Regions from separate parts of the Homo sapiens genome. Here all the other regions are linked to region 2. The links come from fine-mapping of genetic effects on gene expression. A gene starts in region 2. Each other region holds a variant in brackets. All regions are shown on one strand. Distances are from middle to middle.

Region 1 (8,148 bases), 67 kb after region 2:
AAAGGCCAAATACCGTAGGATTCCACTTAGAAGAGGTTCCTAGCGTAGTCCAATTCATAGTGATGGAAAGCAGGACAGTGGTGCCAAGGGCTGGGGAGAGGGGATGGGGAGTTAGCGTTTAGTGAGCACAGAGTTTCCATTTGGGAGGATGAAGTTCTCGAGATGGATGGTGGTGACGGCTGCACAGCAATGTGAATATATTTAGTGAACTGTACATATAAAATGGTACATTTTATATTATACATATTTTACTGACATTTAAACAACAACAGCAGAGTCTGCAAATTTAGAGCAATCAGTTCAATCCAGTTTGCCCAGGACCTACCTGGTTCTAGCACTGAGAATACTGCATCCAGGGGACCTCCTTAGTCCTGGGCAAATAGAGATGGCCGGTCAGCCTGCCTGCAGCAAGCGTGGCCGCAGGTGCTGGGGAATGGGGGCCCAGCCTGGACAGTTGGAGGGTGGTCTCAGTGATGTTGTCTCTAGCCTGAGTGACACTGGAAGCTGATGAGACCCTGAAGAGTAGTCTGGGAGGTAGAAGGGCCTCTCTGGGGGGTTACTGGAGATGGGGGCCACAGAAGGAGGGTACTGGACCAATTGGCAAAAAAAAAAAAAAAAAAAAAAAAAAGGATTTTGTTCTTTGCCAAAGGCCCGAGAGGCTGGCCGGGGTGACTCAACTCTCAGTGTGGGTTTCATGCTGTCCCTGGCAAAGGCTAGTCTAACATAGGATGTGCATTTGGGAAAGGCAGCATTTTTGTGGAATTTGCATCCTTACTCAACATCCCCTGGCTGATCTGTGTTCACTTGCTTGGTCTAAAACACTGAGTGATTTCTTCACATTCAAGGGAAGCAAATACTCTTAGTTGCCAATGAGATCTGCTCCAATACTTTCTCTGATCCCACGGACTGATGTCTATGGGTCTAAAACGGCCCAAAGATTTTAGGAATTAAAAATTTAAAAAAGGACATGTACTATCATCAGAGTGAACAGGCAACCTACAGAATGGGAGAAAATTTTTGCAATCTATCCATCTGACAAAGGGCTAATATCCAGAATCTACAAAGAACTTAAACAAATTTACAAGAAAAGAACAACCCCATCAAGAAATGGGCAAAGGATATGAACAGACACTTCTCAAAAGAAGACATTTATGTAGCCAACAGACAAATAAAAAACACTCATCATCACTGGTCATTAGAGAAATGCAAATCAAAATCACAAGGAGATACCATCTCACACCAGTTAGGATGGTGATCATTAAAAAGTCAGGAAATAACATGCTGGAGAGGATGTGCAGAAATAGGAATGCTTTTACACTGTTGGGAGTGAAAATTAGTTCAACCATTGTGGAAGACAGTATGGCGATTCCTCAAGGATGTAGAACAGGAAATACCATTTGACCCAGCAATCCCATTACTGGGCATATACTGAAAGGATTATAAATCATTCTATGATAAAGACACATGCACACGTATGTTCATTGTGGCACTATTCACAATAGCAAAGACTTAGAACCAACCCAAATGTCAATCAATGATAGACTGGATTAAGAAAATGTGGCACAGATACACCATGGAATACTATGCAGCCATAAAAAAGGATGAGTTCATGTCCTTTGCAGGGACATGGATGGAAGCTGGAAACCATCATTCTCAGCAAACCAACACAGAAACAGAAAACCAAACACGGCATGTTCTTACTCATAAGTAGGAGTTGAACAATGATAACACGTGGACACAGGGAGGGGAACATCACATACCCGGGCCTGTTGGGGGGTAGGGAGGGATAACATTAGGAGAAATACCTAATGTAGGTGACGGGTTGTTGGGTGCAGCAAACCACCATGGCATGTGTATACCTATGTAACAAATCTGCACATTCTGCACATGTAATCCAGAACTTAAAGTATGATAAAAAAAAATAAAAAATAAAAAAGAACATGTAATTGTCCGACCATTGGAAGCACAAGGAGCAACTCTATGAAGGTGTTACCTTTAACCTACCATGGTTTCTGCTTCCTAAAATAAAGGCAATGCACGGACCACCAGACAAATCCTCCCCTTTCCAACAAAAGTCTTACCCGAAACCCTATTAATAGTTTGTCTTTTTTCTATCGTCTAATGCTTCCATTCCTGAAGAATGTGGCTGTGTGCACTTTGGCTTACGAAACCCTCTGTTCTTTTAGTTTGGTGAAATAAGGGCTGTGATGGCAGCAAATCTGAAAACATGTTTGGGGCAGAGATTTCTGGATGCATCTTTAAAGCTGGCTTGAGAGAAATCCCAGTGCACAGGGGCCAACCAGAGGCGAAAGAGTGCGTGTCCTGGAGAGCGTGGTAATCAGCTCAGAACTGGGCAGGCAGACAGAATGCCAAGGTGGTGAAGGGCATTTTGTCTGGTCCCTTAAAGTCAGGCTCTTATCTCTCCTATCCCAGCCTAATAGCTACAATTAGTCTCTGATGCATGCTGAAAAGAGGGTGCGTGTAAAATCCAGGCTGTTTTGCCAGCTGTGTGTGCAGGCCCAGAACATGTTCCACTGTCCGACGATTTGGGAATGAGACTCACAGTTCTTGAACCCAGGAAACAATTTGTGTAATCTCTTTCCTTATCTTATTTAACTTCACCTGCAGGTCTGCCTTATTATTTTCGTCAGTGTTGTGCAGGAGAATCCACTTAGAAGCCTGGGTAAAATTGTATTACATGATCTTGGGTTTGGTCCCTGAGAAAGAGCCAGATTAACGCTGGCAGGAAAGAAAGCAGGAGTGCCCTTCAAACACGCTGCTGAAGGGCAACTGGAGGTTCCGGGGAAATGTGAAGAAAGAAACGCAAACACCCCTAGGAACCAGGTTGGTCTTGTGAATTGATTTCCAGAGGAAGGCTGGAGTTTCTTTCCCAGAGGTCTCTATTCGGGGAGGCTGCAGCCCAGCGGGAGGGAGCTGAAGCTGACTCTCCTGGCGAGCCGAGGCCGCACTCACGCTCTGCAGCCCAGAGACTGCAGGGCGGGGACTCTGAGCCTGGCTGGTCCTGGGTTCTCTTTCAGGCCCCTGGCCTGGGACTGTGGATGGGAGGGGGGCAGGTGCAATGGCTCCTGTCACTGGGCTGACTTGCATGCAGGAAGGAGACAGCAAGATGAGTCCATCTGAGCCAGGCCTCCAGGGATCCTCCCTGCCAGGGGCTCCTGTGCCCCCTGGGGAATGGTGAGTTTGCTGGGAGGGAGAGACGACAGCCCCAGAGCCAGGCATAGAGCAGGAGGCTCTTCGGGCCCTGCCGAGGACTCCACAGGAAGAGTTAAGCTCTACCCCTGTGATCAGGCCTTTAATTTTTCAAACTTGGAAGGTGTGGGCCAAACTACACACCTTCAGGGGTGAGGCTGGCCTTTGGGAAGGACAGAGTGATGCATTCCGAAGAGCCCCTAGATCTGCCACTAGGGGCTCTGGGTTCCAGTCCTAGTGCAGCCTCTGATGACATGATGACTCTGGACAGGTGGCATGTGCCCTACACAGAGAGAGGATGCTGATCACCTTCCTCCCCTCCCATCAGATTGCATCTTGGAACTGAGGAGGTTCTGGAAGCTGTACACCCAAGGAAGACATTCTGTGCCGGAGAGAGAGTGGGAGAGATGTGACTGCTGCTGGCTGGGTGAGGACAGGCCCAGAGGACAGCATCACTGGCACCCACCCCTGCATTTGGGTCCTCTGCACCTCAGCTCCCAGCATCTGGGCCTCCTCCCTGCCTGCCTCCCC[C/T]CCTCACTCAATCTGTCTCCACTCAAGAGGCTGATGGGCAGGTCTCCCTGCTTCTTCAAATCTTTCAAAGGTATCACGGGACCCTCCTGTTCCCTTGACCTCTCCAGCCTCCTCTCCCACTCTGATGCCCTTGCCCCCACAGGGCAGCCACACTGAGGTTCTGTCCCCTCCCCTGTGGTCCCTTCTCCACCTGTCACCCTTCAGGACCAGCTCAGCCTTTGTCCCTCTCCCTGCAGAGGGGATGACAGCCCCATGGGCGCCTGCTACCACTGCCCCTCCATGCGGCCTCCACCATGGCACCCACGTGTTGGGCATTGGTTTCATTTTTTATCATGTGTCTAGATGACAAAACACCAGAGGAGAGACAGAGACTGGGGCCACCACAGTGCCTAGGGCATGCTCTGGTGCTCAAAAGCCATTTGTTAGATGAATGAATCAATGAATCAATCCGTTAGTTAAATTTCCCCAGAGCCAAGTCTTGATTTTCCACACTACATTACCCAGTACCTGTCTCCACGGCTGGGACAGTCCTGGAGACCTCACTCCTCCCTCTGCTACCCGGGCTGACCGCCACCCTCTGGGATCTCCCACTGCCCCCAGGCCTGTGGAGAGGCAGCCAGTAGAAAGGACAGAGGAGCAGCCCCTGGTTCAAAGTCCTTCTCTTCAACTTGCTGGTGACGCCACCCTGGGCAAGTCACCCCACACCTAAGCTTCAATTTCCTCATCTGCTACATGAGCATAATAGTACCCACTTACTGATAATAATTGACCGTAATTAAATGGGCACACACTACTGATCATTTATGAGAATTAAATAAGCCCATATCCACACACTTTGTACAGGACATCGAGTTCCGGAATTACTAGTTCCACCATATCCCGTCTTCATACACAGAACCACAGAGCAAACCATTCAGTTACGTTTTTACTTCCCATGTGGCGCTTGCCCCAGCTCCTGGGTGCCGGGTCCCTGCCAGAGCCTTTTTTGCTCCTCACAGCCTGGCTCAGGGCGGGTCCCCAGCCCAAGCTTCACCCACCTTTACTGAGCGCTCCCTTATCGCTGACAACTGTACTGCCTGTCACACGTCACCAAGCATGGTCCGGGGTTGGGTAGGGCTGTGTTATTGTCTCTATCACCAAGTGTTGCCAACGTCAAAGGGCTGGTAATGCCAATACACTTCAGACTGGAGATGCGGTGGGGACCCTCCCACTCAGGGGTGTCCTTAGCTTGCACATGAGGAGGGCCAGGCCCGCCACTAGGGGCCAAGGCCTTCCTCAACTTCCCTGCCACTCCCCTGGAGAGCAAGTGGGGGCCCTCGTGAGGCCAAGCAGCCAGTCCCAGGACTGCTGCCCCTGCCAGGCTGCGAGCATGGCCCAGGTACGGCTGTTCTTGCTGGGCCCCCGGCAAGACCTGCAGGAAGGGCTGGCTCCCTCACCTCTGTGAGCTCGGCCATGCTGCTGGGGGTCTCTGGGCCAGTCGGCGGAGGGAGAGAAGACACCCCCTAGCAGGGGCTGTCTCCCTGCTCCGACAGGAGCTCCCCTGCACGGCCTTCTCAATTCCACCTGCAGGAAGGCCTCCCCCATCTGCAGGCAGGAATTGGGGCTTGCATTACATGAAACTGGAAGCTTTAGCCAAGGTGATAACTGTCCTATGGAAATGGAGTGCCGAAGTGCCCTGGGGTCACCTGAGAGCCCTCAGAAGACCCCTGGGGCACAACTGTTGGGATTTCTGGGCTTTTCTTGGGTTCTCTATCCCCTGCTTTGGAAACAGATGTAGCGGGAGCTTCACATCTGATGCTGAGCGAGAACCAGCTAGGAAGGTGTCAGTAGGCTGCTAACCTCAAGGGAGGGAGAGCTGAGGACAGGACATGAGCTGCTGGAGTGGGGACCTGTGGGATTAAATAGGGCTCCCAGGCACCTGCAGTTGCTATAGATTCCTGCCTGCGCCTCCAAAGGGAAGTGAGGCAAATCTATTTTCTGCCCCAGCCTCCAGGCAAGTTTGAGGCTGTTTTGTTCTCCAAAGTCACTTCATACTCCATTACTCGGGTACCTGTCTTCTTGGGAAGAACATGCTTTGGGCTTCAGCTGCCAGGGGCCTCACAGTTTCCTATAGCATGGTGGGTGAATCCAGACCCACTGCAGGGCTTTGAGGTCGGGCAGATCTGAGTTCAAATTCCTGCTCTGCTGATTGATCTTGGGCAAGTTTTTTAACCTCAGTTTTCTCATCTGTGAAATGGGGATAGTAATCGTGCCTACCCGGAAAGATTGCTGTGGCTACTGAATGATGTGAGGCGTGTGTATAAACATGCGTAATACAGTACCCAACCATCCCAGGGGCCCAGCAACTGTTCAGTGTCCTAATGCCACTCATTCCCCTCCTCCCTGCTCAACGCGCTGCCAAGTAGGGATTTATCATTTTACAATCACAAAACCAAGAAGTCTTGGTTAATTGGTTTACCTAAAGGCACACAACTAGGATATGGTAGAATCTGACTTGAAGTTGAATCTAATTACACATATTATGCTTTTTCCAGTGCACTCTTGACCAGTTAATGAGCCAGTTGTATTAGAATCACTTGCAGATACCTGTTAAAACCCCAACACCTCCCCAGGTTTATGGAATCTGAATTTCCATGGAGGGCTGGGAGGGATCTGCATTTTTAGCAAACGCTCTAGGTGCCTCACCCAGTAGTCACTACCCCATACCGTCGTGTGCTGTTATAATGGGGAGGGTGCCCATCAGAGGAATTGAGTTTATTATTATAGAAGAAACGTGAATGGGAAATAAGGAGAAACTTAATGCAATTACGTGGACAGGCATGGATCTGGCTGCCAAGGAAGTGAGGAATTTGCGTATTTCCCTTTGGTTAATTTCATCATCCACCATCATCCACTCAGCACGGCCCTCAGCTCACCAGATCATCTCAGAACTCAACTTACTGCATCTCTATTATAACTTTTGTCACACCATGCCACTGTGTTTATGTGCCTGTCTTCTCCTTCGAAGGGAAACTTCACAAAGACAGGAGCCCTGACCCATCCACCTTGGCCTCACCCCACCCCAGCACGGAAGCCAGGCGGCCAGTGGAGGCCGGTAGTGCTGAATGGACATGGGGCTGGATGAAAAGACTTCCGCCTGCCTCTCTCAGCCCCGGAATCGCCATGAGCTGCTATTCCGGTGAGGTGCTGCTGTGGGGATCCTCCAACTCCCTTCTCCTTGACCCTGCAAGACAGCCAGGAAAGGGAGAGCAGGCAGGACCTCCCGGTTGGGGTCAGCTGCAGCTCCCTGGCCAGCAGCCCCAACTCATCAGCTCTCACATCAAACAGGAATGTTGGGAGATTGAAGGCCTTACTTTTATTTGAATGTTGGGAGATTGAAGGCCTTACTTTTATTTTATTCTAGGAGATTCTATGCTACAGAAGTACAAGGTGAAGAATGCATACCGATTACATTGGCAAGGGAGAGAAGAGCCTGGTGCTAGCACTTTTGCTTCTTTGGTCTTTCAATAATGTCTTTCCCCTTGATTATACATGATATATTCCTATTTTGGAAACTTCGAAAACTATAAAAAAGTCAAAAGAATAATATTACCACTCAGAAATAAAGATCATCAAGTTTTGGTGTATTTCCTTTCCTGGTTCTTTTGTTTATACATTCTTTGGTAACCCCCACGAGGCCGTATCTGCCCAGATGAATAGAACAGGAATCTTCCTCCTGCAGGGCTGGTGCCAGACAGGCTGAAAGCACCGGGCTATGCAGAGAAGACTTAGCCTTGGGAGAACAGAGGCTGGGACGAGGAATTCTCTTGTGAACCAAATCCCCGCTCAGCCAGTGCCTCGCTGATGGCTCCGAGCAACTTGCTACCTTCATCCTGAAACAGTACAGCTGCCCTGTCCCTGGAAATGGTTGTTATGAGGCAGTGCTAGCAACCTCCTGTGTGACCTTTTACAAGTACCCTGTTCTGAAGGGTTTAAGCACGGGCTTTCTGGCAGCTCAGGGCCCCTTGACTTGGACATCTGATGTGCCCAGAACAAAGAGATCTGGATCCAGAACCAAGTGATGTGTGTCTGTGTCGTGGCTTAGCCACATCCTTGCATATGACCTTGGCCAAGTCGCTTTAAACTTTCTGTCCCTCAGTTCTACAACCTTTCTGAGCCTCAGTCTTCTCCTCTGTAAGATGGGAATAGCAAATACTTCCAAGCCTTCTTGCAGGATAGTGTATATGGAAGGTTCCCTAGATGGGGGGTATCAACCTGGCTGTATCGCCCACTTCCCGTCGGAAGACACTGGTGAGTATGACCTGCCATTTGGCCACACTGCTTAGCACACATGGATGACACCTGCCTCAGAGGGCTGTCCCCTGACATACCAGAGTCTTGTGCATACCAAGCAGGCAGCACAGGCAA
Region 2 (8,181 bases):
AGGTGGTGTGGCGTGTGAGATAAGAACGGACTGGATACAGAAGCAGATGGGGGCTCCAGCGGACCCCTATCAAGCCAGACCCTAAAGAGATTTTTAGAATGTACAGCAGACCATCCTTCTCAGTAAATTTTGTTTGTTTAGAAAATATACCCTTTTTCCTATAAAATGTTATACATATTAATATGTGATAGGCTTATTGTCGTTTAAAAAGGTAATATTCTAAACAATTCTCAGTTAACTCTGTTTCAGTAAATATTGATATAACCCACATTAGTCAGATCTCTTTGGGAGTTCTCAATTCTTTTTTTTGAGATGGAGTCTTGCTCTGTCACCCAGGCTGGAGTGCGGTGGCGTGATCTCAGCTCACTGCAGTCTCCATCTCTCCTGGGTTTGAGCGATTCTCATGCTTCAGCCTCCCAAGTAGCTGGGATTACAGATGTGTGCCATCACGCCTGGCTAATTTTTGTATTTTTAGTAGAGCTGGGGTTTCACTGTGTTGGACAGGCTGGTCTTGAACTCCTGATCTCAGGTGATCTGCCTGCCTCGGCCTCCCAAAGTGCTAGGACTACAGGCCTGAGTTACTGAGCTTGACTGGACTTCTTAATTTTTAAGAATCTGTTATAAAAAGACTCTGAGACTAGAACATTTGAGAACTGCTGCCTTGATCCAAGAGGCTCATTCATTGTTTTGTTATAACCTACATACGGGATTCCCTTTCAGACTATGCAGTCCAGATTTTCCATGATGCCACAAAGCATGGCAAATTCGAGTGCAACCTGGAAGCCTGCACGAGACTGCCCATGATGTACATTGACGACTGCCTCAGAGCCACCCTGGAGGTCATGGAGGCCCCAGCTGAGTCCCTTTCCATGAGGACCTACAATGTCAGCGCCATGAGCTTCACACCCGAGGAGCTGGCCCAGGAGGTCCTCAAGCACGTGCCGGAATTCCAGATCACATACAACGTGGATGCCGTTCGCCAGGCCATAGGTTCGTACCCGGTGGCAAAGGCCTTTACTGTGAGTCCCTGGAGAATGTAAACCTTGGAAGGTTGAAGAGAGCATAGATCCTTCCCAAGGGTCCAGACACCTTTTGGAGAAGGAGCCTAGCCCAAGAAATTGTTGAGCCCAAGCTAGCAGATGCTTTGATTTTGGGGAATGATATCTAAAGTGGGTGAAATCATTCCATTCCAAATAAACAGCTTGTTAGCCTTTCATCATTTTTACAGTTTAAACATAAAGCAAGGAAAAATAGAAGCAACAGAGGTAGTATGAAAACAGCCCCAGGTTTTCAAATACTGTAACTTTGCCAATTTGTGGATGGAAGCACCTCTTTGAGTATAAAACTTCTTATGAAGTTGTGTGAGATTTTGATAATGTGTGAAAATTCACAGTGCCTGACGAAAGATGGGTTAATAGTCTTCGGCCCTAGGAGGGTGACTGTGCATAATGGCGGTTCTGCTTTACTCGAAGGAATTTCCTGTTTTGTACCTTGTACGGTAGACCTTTATATACAATGGTCAAGACCTTTTTGCAAATCCACAACCTGAATAACTTAAGCTAGTCTTGCGTATCTTTTCCTAGCGGATGGTTGGCCGATGAACTTTGATGACAGCAATGCTCGGAAGGACTGGGGGTGGAAACACGACTTTGATCTTCCAGAGTTGGTGACTGCCATGTTGAACTTCCATGGTTCTGAAAGCAGAGTTGCCCAAGCCAACTGAAAGAATCTGGAAGAGGAGCTCCTGTGTCCTGGTCCACTGTCAAGGGAGAACTGTCACAACTCCAAGGTTATAGACTCCAAGGAGCCTACATTATTTGGAACTGACTCATTGGACTAAATTTTGGCAGCTCATATTGAACTGCTAGACAAAGAATGGAGTTAACATTTAAGCATTTTCAGAATGTTGTAGGTATGGTGGTGGGACTTTTCAGTTTTTGCTGTTTGCCTGAACTTGTCTAAACACATTCCACAGAATAAGGCTTAAGTCATCATTAGTTTCCATTTCCTTAATTAGGATGAAGTGACTATTTCTGGGAAGCTGGGAGTATGTGACATTTGTGTTTAATTAAATTCAATTTAAATATTCCTCTTAAGACTCGATTATTCTCTTGACTAAAGACCAAAGATTACATTTTAAGGACTTTCAAAGAGGTACTCCTCATTTATAAGTATTCTTTACTATCCCAGCGAAAGTAAAACATGTTTGGTGTATTCATCCCATGTCTATCACATTCAAGATATTTTGACACTGCTTCAAAAATTATAATTTCTGGTTTTTCTGTAAGATGCTAGATCTGTGGGAAATTAAGAATTCAAAGATGATGTAACCAGCGAAGGGTAGCCCTGCTCTTATTTTGATTGCCCTCCTATTAGTGAGCTAAATGTAATTCCCAGGAACATAATTCCCTGACCTGGCAACATCAGCATCTAGGGAGATTGTCTAATACACAGGTTTCTGGGCTACATCCCTTTAGATTCACTCATTAAGTGCCAGGTGCCACTGGTTATTTGAATCCAGCTGAGGCCCACTAGTCAGACCAGTTTAGACCAATGCAGTTTTCTAAAGAGCACTTTCTTGTTGCATCTTTTTTTTTTAAGATATTCCTGGGTTGAGCTTTCAGAAGGGCTACTCTAAACCCTCTGATGCAATTACCGTATAGATACATACAGGTTAACTTTTTAAGTTGAAGTTAGGCCAAATCAATTTCTGATTGTATTTTATGGTAAGGGAATGAGTGTGTTCAGAAAATGCTTTCAATCCGGTCATTTAAAAAAATATTTCTGGTGCAATACTGTATAGACACGTACAGGTTAACTTTTTTCCAGCGACCTCGGAATGTACTGCATGTAAAATCACTAGGAAGTGAAACTTCCAGTTCCACAGATTAATCATGGATATATTTGATAACAGCTATCAAGGATTAAAAGGCGTTTATTTATGTTGCATGCTTAATAACAAAATGTTATGCATTTGGAGTTTTGAACTGTTAGGTCAAAGCGTGGATTTTTTTGAAGGCATAACTGGATTTAAAATCTATTTGACTATTAACTGGAGAACTTTTAGGTAATTGAATTGTTTAACAGTTACATTACTGTAGCTTTTTCCTCCACTTAATAAGGTTTATGTTTGTAGATTTTATTTTTTTGTTATTTTTCTTTTGGGCTGCTCTTGAGAGGCAGGAAGATTTTATTTTTTAAAATCAGAAAGTTAGTAATGAATTCTTTTTTTGAAAGTTTGAGATATAGTTTACATACCATAAAATTCACTCATTTATAGTTCTGTGGTTTTCAATGTATTAAAAAGTTTTGCAACCATCACTATAATCTAATTTTAGGCCATTTCATCACCCCACAAAGAAATCATATTATATAAGCCCTTCCCACCCTCGGCAACCACTAATGTACTTCTTCTGTCCCTGGGTTTGTCTGTTCTGAGCATTTTATGTAAGTGGAATGTGGTTGTCTTTTAGTGGCTTCTTTAATTAAGCAGTCCATTTTCAAGGTTCATCCATGTTTTAGCATGTATCACTACTTCATTTTTTATTGCTAAGTAATATTCCATTGTATGAGTAATCCTCTTATTTTCTCTATCCATTCATCCATTGAGGGACATTTAGGTTTTTTGCACTTTTTAAGCTATTATGAATAATGCTGCTGTGAACATTTGGGTAGATAATTGAGTTTTAAAATGATTGCTTACTGTTTATAGTTTAAAAAACAGTTCTTAAGTTTGATTAATTTATTCTCAGTTATCTTAAAGGAACAAGCAATTCTTCCCTTTCATAAGATAAGAAGCAGCAACTCGAGTGACCTTTGTCTCCTAGACCCTAACCTTCCAGCATTTCTACCAGGCTCCTAGAATGACCTTTAATTCGGATCATTTGGAGGGGTTTGTTCCAAACAGGTTCCTTGAATCTTTCCCAATCTGTAAACACACCTCCAGGAGATCTCAAATAAGAGTGAAAAAATAATGAATGCTTCAGCTTCTTTGGATGATTCTTATTCACTGACATCTTTGTACTCCAAGACTAGAATTAGAGTTGTCCCTTCTGTCTGAACACTCAGTATCTGGTGCACATCTTGGGATCCCGGAGCCCATCAATGTTTTCCTGTAAAATGCTTTCCGTTCTGTTGGGAGAAAGGGTTTTTTATGATTAATTTGGAAATAACCCAAAAAGCTATTTGAAGGAAAAGTGGGTTTAACCACAAAAATAGTTTATTTATAAATAAAAAAGAAAGAATACAAAGATTGGCTTTGTTCTGATGTTTTACACAGGCTACCGGTGGTTATTAGTTTTCTGCTCACATGTTTGTGTGTGGCGTTGCTGGGATGTGCCTTGTGTTGCTACACAAACAGCGATCCCGAAGTCTGCCAGCAAGATAGATGGCCTGGAGTCCAGAACAGACTGGATTAGTGAAAGCTACTGCAGTGCTTTGGACACTTACTATGGTAGGTGGGAGATATTTAGTATTTTTTAATTCACATAGGCCAAATCACCAATTTGTGATTGTATTTTATGGTAAGGGTGTTCAGAAAATGCTTTAAATTCTGTCATTTTAAAAAAATGTTTATTAAGAGTTCAGACAATTTAAAAGATATATAATAAAGTTGTCTTCCCCTCCAAACCCAATCAATAACATGTTAGCAGTGTAGTGTGGGACCCAGTGCAGTGGCTCACACCTGTAATCAGTACTTTAGGAGGCTGAGGCAGGAGGATTGCTTAAAGCCAGGAGTTCAAGACCAGCCTGGACAACATAGCAAGACTCTCATCTCTACAAAAATAATTTAAGCCAGATGTGGTGATGCACACCTGTAGCTGCTACTCACGTGGCTGAAGCTGAGGGATCACTTGTAGCCAGGAGTTTGAGGCTGCAATGAGCTATGCTTGCGCCACCATACTCCAGCCTGAGCCACAGAGCGAGACCATCTCAAACAACAACACACAAAAAAACTAGTGTATACCTTTTATTTTCTCCTGTGCTTATACAATCTAGGAGTGGAAGGTGAAACCTTTTTCTTTTCTTTTACTATAAAAGTAGTGCTAAGACAATATTGTCAAAAGTTTTGGAAAAGACTCACTTTCAATTTTTGCCATGTCACATGGTAGCTGTTTTAAAATATTCTCCAGTCCTCTATGCGTTACAAAGAACTTACATGTAGTTTTAACATTTGCCATTTAAAGATAGCTGCATAACTCGTTGAATGGAGTATCATAATGATGTCATTCTATTTAATTGCTGAAACCTAGAAGTACAATTACTGGGTCACAGGGCGTAAACACCTACTTGCCTCTTCATTTTATGTGGTCAAATTTATCTTCGGAACGAGTTGGATTAATTTGTGATGAAATTCTCGACCATCAACACCTTCCTCTTGGCACATATTCATGGACCTCAGTATGGTTTACATTTGTTGAAAAGTTTTATTTTTGTGGCTGGGTGCAATGACTCATACTTGTAATCCCAGCACTTTTGGGAGGCTGAGGCAACAGGATCAGTTGAAAGTTTTATTTTTCTAAAAGGTTTGAAGAATATAAACTTCATTTTTTGCTGGAGAATCTTAACATTCTAATACAAGAGCCGTGAGTGAATAAATCCTAGATCTCACATAACCGGATGATAACTGCCTCTAAATCAGTGAATTGCTTCCAAAAATCACCGGTGAGAAAGGAATCTTGTTTTTTAATGATTTTTTTTTAGGGTAGTCACTTTAAAAAAAATTATTTCATGGCACTGTTTTTATAGCTTTAGTATGTTTGTCTATAAGGTAGCTAAACAGGCCACCCCTTACCTTCCAATGTGAAGATCCCAGAAAACTTTTTTTTAGCCAACTTACATATATAAAGTTTAGGATTGTAGATGAGAGGATAAAATAGACACCTGTACTATTAGTTGCAGGTGTTTCAGATTTGTTAATCTATTAACCAGCATGTGGGCTTTCCCTCTTCACATTCGCATTTCAGGCATGTCACTCCGACTTCGTATTTGATCTTGGTGCCCCCTTTGGCATCCCCTAATAGGTTAAGAGCAGATGATCTTTTTTCTTTCTAAGTTGTTTGGGATGCAGCAGTTTCGGGGTCTATGTATGATGCTGTTGGTGGACATTTATCCCAAGCCACAAGTATGCCTGTGTGTAGGTAGCACTAGGGCAGCTGCTTTTCAGAATCCACAGAGCATTGCTTTCGATTTTTAACAGGCTTCTTTCCAGTGACACCAAATACTTGTAACTGTAGCTTTATAATCCTAGAGACCGTGACTGTTAATGTGCCTCCTTTACAACTTATCCTACCAGCCACAATATTAGCATTGCTTAAGGTTGTTTGAGGCTAATAATGTTTCCACAGAACAATAACTTGTATTCTTTTCAGGTTACCGACAGCATTTAGTATATCCTGAAAGAGTGTAATGTTTCAAATATAAGGTGAGCATCCCTAAGGGGATAGTTTCGGGAGATAACTCTGCCTTATTTTGGGAGTATATGTGATACCTTGTCTGTTGATCCATTTGTCTGAAGTCCTTAAGAAAAGCTTTTCTCTTTTGTTAAAAGGTCAAAAATTTAAAAATTATTTTGCCCAGTTCTTTCTTTACGCTGTAAGTACAATTCTTCTGTACCTACATTGCTGTAAGAAGTTTAAATATAATTTGTAATTTAAGTTGTAGTATGAAAGAATGAACCAGAACAAGTAGCTGCCTCCAAGGTTGTACTTTCCCAATTTTTTAATATTCAAGGCACCTAGAAAATGTATCATTAAAAATATGTTATTAAAATATGCTGTTATTTGTAATACACACTATTATTTTTATGTTCTAAGAAAGGAAGAAAACTTGCATTTAAATAGACACAATGGCCAAGTGCAGTGGCTGATGCCTGTAATCCCAGCACTTTGAGAGGCTGAGGGAGGAGGATCGCTTGAGTCCAGGAGTTCAAGACCAGCCTGGGCAACACAGGGAGACCCTGTCTCTACAAAAATTGGCTGGGTGTCATGGTGTGAGCCTGTAGTCCCAGCTAGTTGGGAGGCTGAGGTGGGAGGATAACTTCAGCCCAGGAGGCAGAGGCTGAAGTGACTATGATCAGAGCATTGCACTCCACCCTGGGCAACAGAGCCAGACCCTATCTCTGAAAAAAACAAAAGAAAAAAGAAACAGAACGCTTTCTTGTTGTTTGGACTTTTTACTTTGTATCCCATTGAGGAGCTCTTTGAGACTTTGCTAGATGCAGATGTTATCACTTGCGCATCTGTAGAAACGGATCTAGAAATGTATGTTTGTTTGTTTTCCTGAAACTTCGGGTTTTGCTTTTCTGAATCACTTTTTGACTCAGTGGTTGGTGTCTCTGGTTTTTCCACCCAGTGTTGTTCTCTGTGCCAGTATGAGTTTTATGTCAGAGCACTCCTTAAAAGAATTCATAAAACCTAAAAGTCACTGGCACTGTAAACCAGCTTTATAGTTACGCCAATCTCGCCTACTTTTGACACCTGCTTTAGGAATGTGCTAACTCTATTTGGTTTGCCCAAAACCTTAAACTCTTTGGTTCCTAGGAGTTACAATGATGGCTGAATGTTTCTCCTGGCCTCTGACACCCACTGCGCAGGGTTCAGTGCTGTGTTTGGAAGGTGCCTATGTCACCAATAGGCAATGCTAGCACTATTACAATCACAACCTGTACAAAAGAAGTTGTAGGATAATCCTGATTTCAAATACGTAAAAATCTGGAAGAAAATGTGAGTCTTAGCAGAGGGTGAGATGTGGTTGCATTTGCAACCACTAGTGTGCCAGGGCAGTCCCCGCCCTGCTCAGACTGCTACCTCGAGGGCTGAAACGATCCCAGGAAAGCTCAGCAGTAGATGGTCACTGCAGGGCTCACACCTTCCTTTCGCATGGCTGGGGAGGGGGGCGTTAGCAGATGTGGTGGGCACTAAAGGAGTTGCTAAGGTTGGCAGCAAAGTGCCAGGCCTCATGGGAGAAAAGAGGAGATGGGATATGAGCTGCCAGGAGACAACGGTTGGGAAGAGCAGATTGTCCCATGGGGGGTTAGGTCCTGTGTGGTTCCTAGGATGCGATCCATCCTTTTTGTTCCATAAAATGTTAGGCGATGCTTTCGTGTCCCATTAGTGGAGCTGCAGCACCGGAGGCTGCTGCAGAGGGCTGGAAGGGACCGTGAGTAGGTAGGCGGGGCAG
Region 3 (8,178 bases), 22 kb after region 2:
AATTGAATTTCTAATACCAATTCAGAAACCAAGTTCACATAATTAAGATTAATCTTTGGCAAACTAGACTAGTTTAATAATTTTGATTCAGGCTGTGTGGGGGCTAACGCCTGTAATCCCAGCACTTTGGGAGGCCAAGGCGGGTGGATCATCTGAGGTCAGGAGTTGGAGACCAGCCTGGCCAACATGGTGAAACCCTGTATCTATTACAAATACAAAAATTAGCCAGGCGTGGTGGTGCGCACCTGTAATCCCAGTTACTCGGGAGGCTGAGGCAGGAGAATCACTTGAACCCAGGAGGCGGAGGTTGCAGTGAGCTGAGGTCGTGCCACTGCACTCCAGCCTGTGTAACAGAGCAAGACTCTGTCTCAAAATATTATTAATAATAATTTTGATTAAAAAATTGCCACGTTACTTCTCCTATTTATCGATGTATATAACACAAGCATGCATTTTATTTGGTTTGTCTTTCCTAAACTCGTACAAGCTTACTCATCAAATAAGCGATTACTTAATGTTACATAATGTTGAGGATCATTAAACCAGGAAATTTGTGCTCAACTAAATTCATTCGTTATGGTGACAAACTTTTTCTTTCAACAGCAATTATATTTTGTAGCTGGAAGATACTTTTCTAGGTGTTTAGATGACTTAGAATTTGGGGCTGATATTAAGTTGAGTTAATGGATAATCACTGTATAGTTAGATGACCTCTAAATACTATCAAATGACAAAACATTGATTATGCAACATAATTTTAGGTTTATATGCAATTGCTTTTTATTTGTTGTGCTTTAGAGAGGCTGTATCTTGGGATCAGATGCATGACTGCTCATTTTTGAACTTTCAGAAGGCGTAAAAGGAATGTGTGTGGCTATAGAAGGTTGGTTATGAACTTTGCTATTCTGCTGAAATCTTTGTCTAAGATAAACAGTTCTCACTTCTCTACCCACCATTTTTCTCTGTGAAGTAGAAGACATTTTGGCTAGTAATGAAAATTAATATGGTTAAGATAAATCTGTATGAGTTAAAAAAATTAATATGGTAGTTGGAGCTATGCAAGGAGCAATAGTGAGAGAGAAACCCAACTGTGCCTGAGCTTTTGTTTTTCAAGGAAAAAGCATTTCTTTTGCTAAAGCAGTAATTATCAAACGTTTTGGGAGAGGCTTCCGTTCACAAAGGAGGAGCTCCCCATGTTTCTCATGGGAACTTGTCCAAGCGTATCTCTTACATAGCAAATCCCATCTTGCCACCCCTGCTCAGAGGCCCCAGATCCACATGCACCTTTCTTCCCAAGAAAGAAGACCTGTTGTCATTGTTTGCACACCTGCCGCCCATTGGACTGGATGCTCTCCTGATAGCCCTGTTTGCTCACCTCCATTCAAAACACATTTTCATTACTGAACCAGATGCCAGGAAAACAAGCATTTCATCTTCTATGAAAATTGTGTAGGGTCGTATTGGTTTTAGAGGATTGTTGTGAGACAGAAATGAAACAGTGCCAGTGAAACAGAGCAGATGTACATCAGTGTGGGTCCATTTGAAGTCTGGATGGACGGAGTGGCACCCCAGCCTCCTCAAGGAAGCCAGGACCCAAGAGTTGCCTTTCACTTTTGCCTCTCAAGGAACCTGATATAACCAACATGAAAAAAACACACTCAGAGCTCAAGAGGGCTGGCCCTTCCCAGGACAGATGCTGCAGAGACTGGATGCATTTTTTCCTGCCCAACCAACCTTGGCGACAGGTTGCTGGGCTCTCATTCATGAAGCTACCTGCCTGGGGAAATGAGTCAATCCAGTTATTAGCTCACCAAGGGCTTTTATTCTTGACAAGGTACTGATACCCTATCTACCTCCACTGCTTGGGAATAGCTGACTTGGACTTAAGTCTGTGGGAATCAAGATATCAGAATACCTAGAGAAGCTGGAGAAATGCACTCCCAACAAATGCCACCTCAGTGTCTGTCACAGCAGCCGTCTTTGAAAGTTGTCCGGCATCCTGACGGCCATGCACAGATTCCATCATGGTGCTTTAAAATTATTTACTAAAACCCACAGAGAAAAGAGGTAAGAAGATACTTCCATGTTATTCCCAAAGCTTCTTGTGAATAATCTTACTGAACCCCCACCGTGATCTTCCCCAGCTGGGTGATCAAGCCAGGACCACCTGAAAATGCTCTCCTAATGCCTGAGTCTATTGTTCAGGGACGTGGTGTCCTTTCTTCATTCCCTGGGCACTCTTAGAGAGATCATGCACCCTGCCTTTCTCTCCTCCTCAGTGTCGAACCTCAGGTAACATTTCTCCCAATTCCCACTCCTCTTCCTCCAGGGAATCAAAGGCCTTTTGCCAACTTTTAAAATCCAAACGCCCAACTGCACACTAGATGTTACATTTTTTTTTTTTTAGAGGAGAGGGTGCTGTCTTTTCATCAGATTCTCAAAGGGTCCCCTTCCACCCCAAAGGATAAAGAACCACGATGCTAAAGGATGTCCACCTAAAGGGCGACAGCTCTAGTGTGAGGGTACAAGCTTGCCATCTCACTCCCACCACCTGCCCAGGGCAGCAGGCCTGAGAGCAGGGCAGTCTTTGACAAGCCAGCAGTGCTCGTGCCAGAGGAAAACAGGGTGGGTCGTGCACCTGTGCTGGAGCAGTTACAGGCCCCACTTAGCTTATCGGCCGGCCGCTCTGCTCGGGTCTTGAGGCTCAGACCTTGTGAGCTGATAGCATCCTCCCTCTTTCCAGAGTCAACACAGCCATGGGCCCGGGAAGCTGGCAGCCATTCTCAGGAAGGGGGTCGAATGCCATGTTATCACCGGGCTGGCAGTTGTGTAGCCTTCGCCGGGACGGGCCCCTTTGGCTTGTTCTCCTTATCTTCTCTCCTCTCAAGGCCCTGCAGTGGTTATTGAGGGCAGCGGATCCAAGGGCATAATCTCCCTCCTGCCTCAGGCTCCCTGAGATCTGTAGCGAACATCCACCGTTCCTCAATGTTCCTCACCCTTCTTCAGTCTGATGTCTTAGTCCCCCAGACATTTCTTATTCATCACTGGTAGGGAGCGTTGCAGGGCCCCTGTGCCTCTAGAACCATAGGCATGGGCGAGAATGCAGACTCAGCACCTGCGGAGGGGGCTTTGGACCTGTGTCTGGCAAACATCCTTGGATTGTGACAGGGTGGGCTGAACTGCTGGGTAAGAGATGGAGACCAGCTGAGCATCGCAGGTTCGGGTATTCTATGTGGTGCCAACACCACGGAGGTCTTCAGTCCTGTGTGAGCAGAGCTTAAAGGGAAATGTCACGTTAGGGAGAGCTGCAAGGTTTCCTGCCACACACTACCAGGAGAAAGAAGCCACTTGTGTATGTGGGTACGACTAGAAAGGTGAGCCGCAGGACTAGAAGTGGTGGAATGCATTCTGGAAGGCCCATCAGGCCAGATGGGCAAGTTATCCTGGAAGTGATTGACAGCAAAATCACACCCAGGAAACTCAGAGACCTAAAGACGGCCCCGCTTCTCATTCTATGTAAAACCCGTTTCAGAAGAGAGAGAGGGAGGCCACGCTGATTATTCTTGGAAAAGGTCAGCTTGGGTGGCACCTGTTCAGACTGGATGAGGGCAGGTGCGATGGATGTGACTCAGCTCCCGACCGGCAGTATCCCAGGGAGCAGGGACAAGCAGGTCCTCAGCTCTGGTCAGAAAGCAGAGGACCCTGGACCCCAAGTGGTCTGCTGCTTTGCCTGACAACCCTGCCCATAAACTGCTTGTGAGCAGAACAAGCGAGCAAGTGTTCACCCCCTGGCATTCACAG[G/A]CACTGGTTCAAGTGGGGCAGATTTTGAAGTACGGGCTGCCAGGGCCTCAGAGGCAGGAACTTCTGCCCATTGCTGTGCTGCTGCAGCTCACAGCAGGCTGTACCCACACAGAGAACATACTCCTGGGGCTCAGGTGGGGGAACAAGGGAGGGGTCAATGTGATGAACAATTCTGGCTGAGAGAGAAGCAGGGATGGGTGGGAGGAGGATGGAGAGAGAGAGAGATGAAGGTAGGGCACCCTCTCGGAGACACAGGGCGGGCTTGTGCTCCGAGGACTCAGCTCAGAATTCAGCCCCATCTCCAGGTCACCTCAAAGCCCTAATGTTGCTGGGCTCCCCTCAGTGACACTTGCCTTCTCAGTCTCACCAGGCTATTCTGATGGCTTCTACTAATGCCCTCTGTCCTTCTGGCAGAATGTGTGGCCAGTGAGTGTCCTGGAGGGGAGGGTGAGAGTCTCCATCCAGAACTTCTCGACTGCAGAGCTGTGAACACGGAATGAGTGTGTGAGGTACGGAGGTCCTCGGCCCCAGGGGACCCCAGGTGCGCTCACAGCCTCAGGGGCGGCGGCCTTCTGCATCGCGGCATGTGGCACGCAGAGTGTCATGTGCTGTGTGTGCCACACGGTGAAACAGGTGGAGACACTGACAACAGGCTTAACTGGGAAGCTGTGCCCCAAAAGGAGCTTCAAAGAAGAGCCCCCTCCACATCCTCAGGAGAAGGACTCTTGGTTGGAAAAGGCCTGGAAGTGACCAGTATCTATGGTGCTTCGTCTCTTTCTCAGGCCCATAAGGACAGAATTTACATTTGAAAAGAAGAACAACACAGAAACTTTTGCAAAGGGCTGCCAATACTTTTTCTCTGAGGAACGTGCAATGTGATGAACAAAATTTTTTCCCAGAAAGCCAGAGGCTGGGCAAAGGCAGAGGGGCCTGGAGGCTGCTCCCAGGTAGGGAAACTTCTGGAGCAGGGACTTGACTCCACCTCCCAGGGGGACCGCATGTCCAGAGTGTGCACTTCTGGGAAGGCTGCAGAGCTGAGAGAAGCTGGTCAGATGCCCGATGCCCTAACCCTGAGATGGAGCTGCTCCCTGCCATCTCCTCCCACCTTTAGTGATGTTTTCAGAGCCTTAAGCTCTTGTGCAGTCTGGGCAGAAGCTGAGCCTTGTGTCTGATCTATACTGGCAGGAAGGAGGCAGCCCCTCCGGGTGAGGGGCCTCCAGGCTGCGGCTGGCTCTGGCGAGGATGGTGGTGAGAGGCCCATCTATTTCCTCAACCTTAGCTGACCTACCGTAAAGCAGGGAAAGCCTGGTGATGGGGTGGGTCACATTTATTCCAATTCTGTCTCCCCTCTTGCATCAGCTTACCCAGGAGCTTGTTAGAAAAGCAGCCTCCCAGACCCCACCCAGACCTGCTGGGTCAGAAAGAATGAGAACCCCCGGGCAATGCATGTGTGCAGACAAGTTTGAGAAACGCTGCTGCTCTAGATACTAGGTTAGCAAAGCACGGCCAAAGTGTGGGCAGGGGAGCCGCACAGTCCTGGTTTCAAATTCTGACCCACCACTCCCACCCACAGGACCCACTCCATGTTTCTCAGCTTCTCTGAGCCTCAGTTTCCTCCTTTGCAAAATGAGGACAATTATAGCACCCACTCTTTAGAACTGGGGAAGGACTAAAGTGTCCAAAGCATGGGCAGTGCCTGGCCCATGGGAGGCGCTGGGGGTGACCGTCCTCCTTCTGGAACTCCTTCCTGACAAGTCGTCTGGAGTGAGGCTGAGGAATGGGTGTTTTCAGAAACTTCAGCTACCTCTGATGCAAGTCCAGGTGATACTATCCCCTGTCATTTACAGTACCTGACCCTGGAATTGTACCCAGGGCACCCTCGTGCACTGGGATACGACTGATGCAGGTTGGAAGGCAGAGCTCCCTGCAGTGGGAGAAGGATGGCAGGGAGCAATGGTCCGGGTCTCAGAAGCGTAAGGGAGATGGGTTTGCTGCTGGAAGCCATTGGTGCATTCTCAGCTGCGGCACAGCCTGACAGCCACAGCTCACAGAAGGGAAAGGGGAGTGAAAGGGGAGGTGGCGGTTTTAGAATAGCCATCTTAGGAGCTTGGCTGGGAAAGGACAGTTATTTGAAATAACAGAGAATCAGGGAGATTCTTCAGAAAGGAGAGAACTGAGATGGTGTTAAAGTAGGGAACGCTATCCTTATCAGGGGAAGAATAATTTCCCCTGAATAACTAAATGTGGGTTTTTGTTGTTGTTGTTTGTTTGTTTGAGATGGAGTTTCAATCTGTTGCCCAGGCTGGAGTGCAGTGGTGCAATCTTGTCTCACTGCAACCTCCACCTCCCGGATTCAAGCGATTCTCCTACCTCAGCCTCCCAAGTAGCTGGGATTATAGGCATGTGCCACCGCACCTGGCTAATTTTTGTATTTTTAGTAGAGAGGCGGTTTCACCATGTTGGCCAGGCTGGTCTCGAACTCCTGACCTCAGGTGATCCACCTGCATTGGCCTCTTAGAGTACTGGGATTACAGGCATGAGCCACCGTCCCCAGCCTGAATAACTAAATGTTTTTCAGCATCTAACATTTTCTTCTACAGGTTTGCTTTAAAAAAAAAATAAGAAAGAAAGAAACACTTCATGAATTTACATGTCATCCTTGTGCAGGTGCCATGCTAATCTTCTCTGTATCGTGCCAATTTTAGTATATGTGCTGCCAAAGCGAGCACCAGATTTGCTTTTTTATAAGTGTTTTTTAAAGAAATGGTATAATGAAACATACATATAGAAAGTGCATAAAACAAAAATGGACAGTTTCACAAATAGTTGTAAGGCAAAGTCCTGTGTAGCCCCTAACTAGCTTAAGAAGCAGAACCTTGCCAGCACGCAGAAGCATCTACAAATCTTGCAGGAGGCAGCACAGGCGCACCATTGACTTTAAGCTTTGCACCTGTCCTGTGAGGTGGGCATGCTTTTTCCTATTTTATATATGAGGACACCAGGATGCAGGTGGGCCACATGGCTCCCCCAGGGCCACACAGCTAGTGGGCAGTAGAGCGAGAATGAAACCCAGGCGTGTTGGAGCCTGACAGCACTAGCGCTGTTTCTGCAGGTGCTAAGGGGGAGGCTTGGCCACAGGGGTGGGCGGCAGGGCTGGAGGGCCAGCCTGGACGGTGGACAGGGAGAGAATGGACTCGGGGATTGAGGTCACCCTGCTGGGCAGGGAACGTGGGAGGAGAGACACAGAGCAGGTACTCTGAGGTGAAGAGGAAGCCTGCTCTGCTCCCCAAGAGTCCCTCCTCACCATGCCTTCCCCTCACTTCTCCCTGACAGTGTCAGGAGAGTCCGTCGTTCAGCTAAAGCTTGGGAGAGGGCGCCCTTGATTCCTCCGATTAGACAAAGAGGACCTTGGCAGGCAGGTCTGGGGACTTGCTAGTGCTGGGTCACTGAGGAGTGTCCTTTAAGGCGATGGGAGCCGAGGGGAAGACGGAATTACTCCCAGAGAGAAGGCTCCCAGCTACGCTAGCTCACAGCCCTCAAGTCCACTGCTATACTGGGTGGCCTGAGGACTTGTGCCAAGTTCCAAGTGAGATAAGACAGAAAACAAGTCACTGGTCAAGGACAGGTCAAGGTAAAGCCAGCCAGAAGAGTTATCATTCCAAGAAGTTCACAAGGCCATTATACAGCCTTTGGAACGAGACATTTCTGCTTTTCCATAAGCAGCTGGGAATTTCTGAGACCTGTTTACAGAGAATTAGAACTTCTAATAAAGGATATGTGACCAATATCACTTTCACCCTTGGCCTCCATCTGCCCTGTTCCCACACCTCCCTAGGTAAACTTTATTCTAGTTTCTCATGCATCTTTTCAGAGCTTTAAAAGTGCATATCTGAGCAAATCAAACACTAGATTTGTATTTCCGCTCCATGACAAGTTTAACAATCTAGAAGTTGGGTCGGTGGATTGTCTCCTACACCACCGAACCTGTCTCTGAGTCCCAAGCATCAGTCAGTCTAGCTAAACTGTCAACAGTTGCATCTTATTTCGGGCAGCAGTGTTACAGGTGGGCTGCCACCAAAGTTAGACATCCATATGGCGCGAGTATTTCACGAGAGGCATTTCTATGAGAACAAAAGAAAAACCAATGTTAGTAATTAGAATAAACTAGAAACTCGGTTTTTAAGCTCAGAAAGCAGCCAGGTGAGAAGATTTCTGGGTTTTGGCTGAAAGCATCTTCAGCTGGGGTGGGAGCAGGCCGTGGCAGTTTGACAGGTTTCCCCACTTTACAGTTTGCATCAGGTGTTCCAGGGGCGTTTCTGAGTAGTCCATATAGCAGCAGGCGTGAGGACCACGCATACATAAGTTGCTGTGCTTTCT

Alleles and levels. Positions count from the first base shown, and alleles are read on the strand shown. Sizes are in standard deviations (SD) of each study's normalised expression.
With allele T in place of C in region 1, the expression in anterior cingulate cortex of the gene that starts at base 4,403 in region 2 is higher (small effect, 0.35 SD a copy in GTEx).
As copies of G replace A in region 3, the expression in pancreas of the gene that starts at base 4,403 in region 2 goes down (large effect, 0.82 SD a copy in GTEx).

Evidence for each region.
Region 1: its variant is fine-mapped to the expression of FAM167A-AS1 in anterior cingulate cortex (GTEx, PIP above 0.99). The same link has a PIP of 0.9 or more in lung.
Region 3: its variant is fine-mapped to the expression of FAM167A-AS1 in pancreas (GTEx, PIP above 0.99).

What each region holds. Positions count from the first base shown.
Region 1 is chr8:11,431,292-11,439,439 of GRCh38, forward strand. All of the region lies in intron 2 of FAM167A (family with sequence similarity 167 member A), which reads right to left. FAM167A-AS1 (FAM167A antisense RNA 1) reads left to right here. Exons shown (of 7, transcript NR_026814.1): 4 at 2,629-2,844; 5 at 3,539-3,811; 6 at 6,749-6,919; 7 at 7,145-7,366. Among named protein-coding and RNA genes, the nearest start is that of FAM167A, 31 kb to the right of the region's middle. RefSeq lists enhancers at 4,611-5,130, 5,131-5,650 and a silencer at 6,926-7,129. The variant C/T (reference allele first, on the strand shown) is at 3,742.
Region 2 is chr8:11,364,000-11,372,180 of GRCh38, forward strand. It overlaps FAM167A-AS1 (FAM167A antisense RNA 1), which reads left to right and starts at 4,403. Exons shown (of 7, transcript NR_026814.1): 1 at 4,403-4,453. It also overlaps the pseudogene TDH.
Region 3 is chr8:11,385,988-11,394,165 of GRCh38, forward strand. The region is part of intron 2 of FAM167A-AS1 (FAM167A antisense RNA 1); the gene reads left to right. It also overlaps the pseudogene RNU6-1084P. Among named protein-coding and RNA genes, the nearest start is that of FAM167A-AS1, 22 kb to the left of the region's middle. The variant G/A (reference allele first, on the strand shown) is at 3,802.